Homo sapiens: one gene and its partner. The protein of the gene in region 1 binds, or shares a complex with, the protein of each later gene. Each region holds a gene or a part of one and is shown on either strand. Other genes may lie near its edges. A codon is read from its position in the direction of its gene.

What was found. Proteins that work in one complex are often made in the same cells at the same time.
Region 2: the proteins of EIF2S1 (region 1) and EIF2B4 are in contact, whole or in part, in a cryo-EM structure (PDB 6O81), measured with the Homo sapiens proteins. Residues at the interface, in NP_004085.1 of Homo sapiens: Met30, Tyr33, Met45, Arg55, Arg57, Arg75, Glu79, Lys80, Tyr82; in NP_001029288.1 of Homo sapiens: Asn245, Glu246, Glu247, Arg250, Thr285, Ser520 (codon at 2,925), Ser521 (codon at 2,928), Asp522 (codon at 2,931).

What each region holds. Positions count from the first base shown.
Region 1 is NC_000014.9:67,384,300-67,387,042, forward strand, and holds the end of EIF2S1 (eukaryotic translation initiation factor 2 subunit 1), read left to right. Parts: 3' UTR 1-2,217; downstream 2,218-2,743. UniProt on the Homo sapiens protein: Member of the eIF2 complex that functions in the early steps of protein synthesis by forming a ternary complex with GTP and initiator tRNA. This complex binds to a 40S ribosomal subunit, followed by mRNA binding to form a 43S pre-initiation complex (43S PIC).
Region 2 is NC_000002.12:27,363,798-27,367,338, reverse strand, and holds the end of EIF2B4 (translation initiation factor eIF2B subunit delta), read left to right. Parts: intron 1-137; coding exon 138-265; intron 266-402; coding exon 403-580; intron 581-1,454; exon of another isoform or gene 1,455-2,262; intron 2,263-2,440; coding exon 2,441-2,621; intron 2,622-2,739; coding exon 2,740-2,939; 3' UTR 2,940-2,987; downstream 2,988-3,541. UniProt on the Homo sapiens protein: Acts as a component of the translation initiation factor 2B (eIF2B) complex, which catalyzes the exchange of GDP for GTP on eukaryotic initiation factor 2 (eIF2) gamma subunit.

The DNA.
Region 1 (2,743 bases):
CACTAGATGCCACCTAGAGCTCCAGTTCTTTATAACAAAACAGGGATCTGTTTGAACACTTACTGTTGTTTTTTTTTTTTTACATGTTTCCATCATTTCTGTCTTTAAGAACTAATTCGTACATAATAAGTTTCATAGGTAACACATTATTTGAAGTTACAGCTACAGTAGTCAGGTGTAGAAAATCTTGAGTTGCTTTGGTCTGCTTGTCTTCATAAATTTATTCTCTTATGATACTTGAGGTACCAGTTGTATTTAATTTTATTCATTATCCCTAGATAGCTATTAAGATACTTAGATTAGACCTAACCCACCATAGTCAATCCAAGACTAGACTACTCAATATTAAAGGGTCTGGAAAATAGAAGAGTGTGTTGGGCAGGTAGTTTGTACCATTTATGAAGGTTTGTTCCTTTGTTAAATTTAGCAGCCTGTACTAGCTTTTGAAATCCAGAAGTTTTAACTTCCAGTGGCTGGTTTCTGAGAGAGTGCCATGATTGCTAGCCAGCATTCCATATTGGGAATATGTAGAGGAGAACCTGGATGTACTTAAGAGTGGCATATAATTTTCACTTCTGTCTGTTGAGGCATCAAAAAAACAAGTTTAGAAAGCTGGCAACATGAAGAATGCATTCAAAATATAACAGGTGCTTCTTTGTTGTACGCAGAGGAATTTTTTCTTTTGATTTTGTTTACTGAAATTTGTTATACTTCAAAAGCCATAACTTGAAAAATACTGGTGGCGTCGATGGTGAGTGATTTTTATCCCACGTGGGCCTTTTGCTCAGTTCCATGGCAATTTTGTAAATTGACCCTAGCCAGAGAATAGATCAGTATTTCACTGATACCACGAGGAAAAGAACAAACAAAACTTAAAAGTATTCATACACCTTGCTAACCTAAAAGACAGCAGGGACAAGATACATATGAGGACAAGGTATACACCCAGTTCTGAATAACTTGAAGAACAGGCTTGGCAAAGAAGTAAGTTTATCCAAATCTTGAATTTCTGCCAGGCATGGTAGCTCATGCCTGTAACCCTGGCACTTAAGGGGCCAAGGCAGGAGGATCACTTGAGGCCAGTGAGCTGTGATCACTCCAGTGCACTCGAGCCTGGGTGACAGGGCAAGACCCTGTCTCAAAAAAAAAAAAAAAAACCAAAAATCTTGAATCTCCCATCAAAGCCTTTTCATTAAAAATACAATTTCATCTACTCCCTACTGTACCTTTCACTGATGTCAAGTGGCTATCAATTCATATAGCTGAAAATTAGTGATAGTTTGGGTCTCATTTATGCATAAATTAATTGAAAATCAGTAATGGCCAGGAAGAAATATGAATATTCAAACCACTTTTTTCTTTTTTTTTTTTTTTTTTTGGCAAATGGTGTTATATTGCCTGGGCAGGTCTCGAAATCCTGGGCTCAAGCTATCCTCCTGCCTCTGCCTCTGTAAGAGTGTGAGCCACCATGCCCCACCCAAACCATTTTTCATATCAGTTATAGCAAAACAAGACAAACCAGTTCTTAATAATGTTCAAAGTTGGACCCATAGAGACATGCTAAGCACTACATCATGCTAAGAAGAACAGTTATTACTCAGCTGCCATACTTCAGCCATTCTACTTTTACACCAAGAACAAAATGGCTAGAGATTTTTTTAAAAATACAAATGCCAGTACCTTGCCGAGACTTGTTCACTGATTTGCCCCAACCCCAAGGTAATGGTCATCTACTTTGCAACCTATGGAGATCCTGATAGCTCCCATACAAAGTGAGGTACACTGTTGCCAATTTGGAGGCAGGAAGCCATCAAACTAAACGTAGTTTAATTCAGATGAACACCTATCGATATTCAAAAGGCAAAACAAAAAAACTAATTCCAGGGACATTAGACCTTGGTGAAATGCCAAATGGAAAATGGTGCTTTAAAAGGTAGTCTCTTACCATATAAGGAATAAGTAAAACATTAGCTTGTGATTTCTCATTATTCAGGTCAATGTTTTAGACACGACTAACAAGGGACAGTTCAAACTATTAAAGAGAACAAATTTTTACTTAAGCACTTTGAGGTATCCACTCCCCTTAAATGTAAGTTATGTATTTTATCTGTTGATTAAGGGGAGGTCCAAGCATTTGTACTTGGCAGGAATGCTGGCAATAGCTTGTGCCAGATTACTGTATAAACTTGAAAGTAATAAAAATGTTCTTTAAAAGTATTGTATGATACAGACTTTTCACTACAGATTAACCTTCCAACTGGTGAAGTTTCTTGGTACCTATTTGTCTCAGCTTATATTCATTTTAAAACCAAAATTTAATGCCTTGATATAAATCTTCCCCATTTACATCTTTTTCTGTCCTTTAGAGCGCTCTTACTCTGCATTGCTAAATGCCCATTTTTCATAGAAAAGCTATGTAATGTATTTTTCGTATACGTGATTATGTTCTCCGACAGAGTCCATGACTTCTGTAATGTATAATATTTATGCAGGCTTGTTTTCTAAAGCAAAACAATATTCTCAATGTACAAAGTTTGGCCACCATCCCCACTTTAAGATGAACTATGTCTTAATGACAGAGATACTTGAAACGTTGCTCGAAAACTATAAACTTTGTATGGGATTCTAATAGCTAGAAACAAATTGTCAGCTTTTACTAATTCCAAAGAAGTTAAGAGAGAACCTCATAAGAAGAGAGTTTTATTCAACATTATGGCATGGCCAGTGTAATTGTTCCAACAAA
Region 2 (3,541 bases), on another chromosome or scaffold:
GGTTTGGCCATTCTGACTTGTGCCATCTCTGAGCCCTCTATAGGCTTGTCATCATACACATATTCAAGCACCTGGCATGATCATCAGAGGGATAAAAGTGTCCATTTCTTGTTCACTAAGGATTTTACTCCATTTAGGCCAAGTCAGAACTTCGAGCAGCCATTGATCGGTATGTGCAAGAGAAGATTGTGCTAGCAGCTCAGGCAATTTCACGCTTTGCTTACCAGAAGATCAGTAATGGAGATGTGATCCTGGTATATGGATGGTATGGTCCAGACCTTGTGACTGAGCAGATTGGGAGTTGGAATGATCTGAAGAAGGGACTACCCACTTGCCTTTGGGAATAAGTTAGTCATCAGTTACTGACATTTATAACTGAATCCTCCTCTTCATTCACTCTAGCTCATCTCTGGTATCACGAATTCTTCAGGAGGCTTGGACAGAGGGCCGGCGGTTTCGGGTGGTAGTGGTGGACAGCCGGCCATGGCTGGAAGGAAGGCACACACTACGTTCTCTAGTCCATGCTGGTGTCCCAGCCTCCTACCTGCTGATTCCTGCAGCCTCCTATGTGCTCCCAGAGGTAAGTACAGAGGAAAAGGACTCCAAAGTTGGCGGTGAAAAGGTGTAGTAGTATAGACATAATCTCACCTTCCCAAAGTTACAGTTTTGTTTTTGTTTTGAGATAAGGATGGAGTGCAGCGACGTGATCACAGCTCACTGCAGTCTTGACCTCCTGGGCTCAGGTGATCTTCCCACCTCCGCCTCTGAGTAGCTGGGACTACTGGTGTGTGCCACCATGCCCAGCTAGTTTTTTATTTTTCTTGTAGAGATGGGATATCGCTACATTGCCCAGGCTGGAACTCCTGGGCTCAAGCAGTTCCCCCTGTCTCGGCCTCCCAAAGTACTGGGATCATAGGCATGAGCCACTGTGCCCAGCCACAATTATTTAAAAATATTAGAATTATATAGCCCTGGCTTGGTGCCATGGCTCAATGCCTGCAATCTCAGCACTAAGGCAGGAGGATCACTTGAGCCCAGGAGTTCAAGACCAGCCTGCTCAACATAATGAGACCCTGTACACACACACACACACACACACACACACACACACACACACACACACCCCACCCCACCCCCACCCCGGGCATGGTGGCATGCGCATGTAGTTCCAGCTACTTAGGCTGAGGTGAGAGGACTGCTTGAGTGCGTGCGCGCGCGCACGCACACACACACACACACACACAGCTACTTAGGAGGCTGAGGTGAGAGGACTGCTTGAACACACACACACACACACACACCCGGGCATGGTGGCATGCGCATGTAGTTCCAGCTACTTAGGAGGCTGAGGTGAGAGGACTGCTTGAGCCCAGGAGGTTGAGGCTACAGTGAGCTGTCATTGCACCACTGCACTCCAGCCTGGGTGACAGAATGAAACCCTGTGTCAAAAAAAATAATTATATAGCTCTGTTTCTATTTAATTGGAAAAACACTGACAGTATATTACAGCAGTCTAGCTATTGCAAAAACATTACATTAAACTAGCAACCAGGAAGAGGGAACAAGACAAAAGTAACTTCAAAGTTTACTTTTCCTGTGGGAGATTTGGTGGGTCAGTGGTCAGGTGTTTTCACAGAAGAAAAGCCATCATTAAGATTTATTAGGCCGGGCACAGTGGCTCAAGCCTGTAATTCCAGCACTTTGGGAGGCCGAGGAGGGCAGTTCACGAGGTCAGGAGTTCACAATCATCCTGGCTAACACAGTGAAACCCCGTCTCTACTAAAAATACAAAAAATTAGCCGGGCGTGGTGGTGGGCGCCTGTAGTCCCAGCTAATCTGGAGGCTGAGTCAGGAGAATGGCGTGAACCCAGGAGGCAGAGCTTGCAGTGAGCCGAGATCATGCCACTGCACTCCAGCCTGGGCGACAGAGCGAGACTCCATCTCAAAAAAAAAAAAAAAAAGGATTTATTAATTGCCGGACTCAGTGGCTCACGCCTGTTATCCTGGCACTTTGGGTGGCTGAGGCGGGCAGATCACCTGAGGTTGGGAGTTCGAGACCAGCCTGACCAACGTGGAGAAACCCCGTCTCTACTAAAAATATAAAAATACAACAAATCAGCTGGGAGTGGTGGTGCATGCCTGTAATCCCAGCTACTCGGGAGGCTGAGGCAGGAGAATCACTTGAACCCAGGAGGCAGAGGTTGTGGTGAGCCGAGATCGCGCCATTGCACTCCAGCCTGGGCAACAAGAGCAGAACTTCATCTCAAAGAAAAAAAAAAAAAAGATTTATTACTTGTTGTCTGTTTTTGTTTCTTTCCCTTCTTTTCACAGGTGTTGAGATTTATTACTTGTCTTAATGTTGCTGTCCTGTAAGTAGGGGACCTTATTTTGCATTGATACAACAATGACATTTTTTTCTTCCTCTTCTCCTGTGAAACAGGTTTCCAAGGTGCTATTGGGAGCTCATGCACTCTTGGCCAACGGGTCTGTGATGTCACGGGTAGGGACAGCACAGTTAGCCCTGGTGGCTCGAGCCCATAATGTACCAGTGCTGGTTTGCTGTGAAACATACAAGTTCTGTGAGCGTGTGCAGACTGATGCCTTTGTCTCTAATGAGCTAGGTAAGGAGGCAAAAGAGAAGCCTCCAGCTACCTGTGAAGACTTGAGAGGGAGGGAGAGGGGCGGATAAACTAGAACTTCTTTTCTGAAAGAACATAATGGGTACGCCTTCCATTGCAGATGACCCTGATGATCTGCAATGTAAGCGGGGAGAACATGTTGCGCTGGCTAACTGGCAGAACCACGCATCCCTACGGTTGTTGAATCTAGTCTATGATGTGACTCCCCCAGAGCTTGTGGATCTGGTGATCACGGAGCTGGGGATGATCCCTTGCAGTTCTGTACCTGTTGTTCTACGAGTCAAGAGCAGTGACCAGTGACGGGGGAAACACAGGGTTAATAAATGCCATACTCCCTACCCTCAGCAACTCTGCTGCCTTTGTTTCTCTTTTAGCATCTCCACCACTTAAGTTAGGAGTCCAGACTTCACAACCCCTTTTATCACCTGCTACTCAGACCTTTGTGAAGACCTGCTCAAGTAACTAGCTCCATGCCAGTACATTGGGACTAACCTGAAGACCCGTATAAAGAACCAAAACTACCCAAATCAATCATTCACTGAGCATCTACATGCCAGACACTAAACTGGGTGTGAGGAGGAATATGAAAACAAATAGTCCTGGGCTGAGTGCAGTGACTCATTCCTGTAATCTCAGCATTTTGGGAGGCTAAGGCAGGAGGATTGTTTGAGCCCAGAGGTTTGAGACCAGCCTGGGCAACATGGCAATCCGGTCTCTACAAAAAATAAAAATTAGCTGGGCATGGTTGTGCTCATCTGTTGTTCCAGCTACTCAGGAGGCTGAAGCCAGAGGATTGCTTGAGTCCAGGAGGTAGAGGCTGCAGTAAGCCATGATTGTGCCGCTGCACTCCAGCCTGGGTGACAGAGTGAGACCCTGTCTCAAAAAGAGAGTCCTAACCTTAT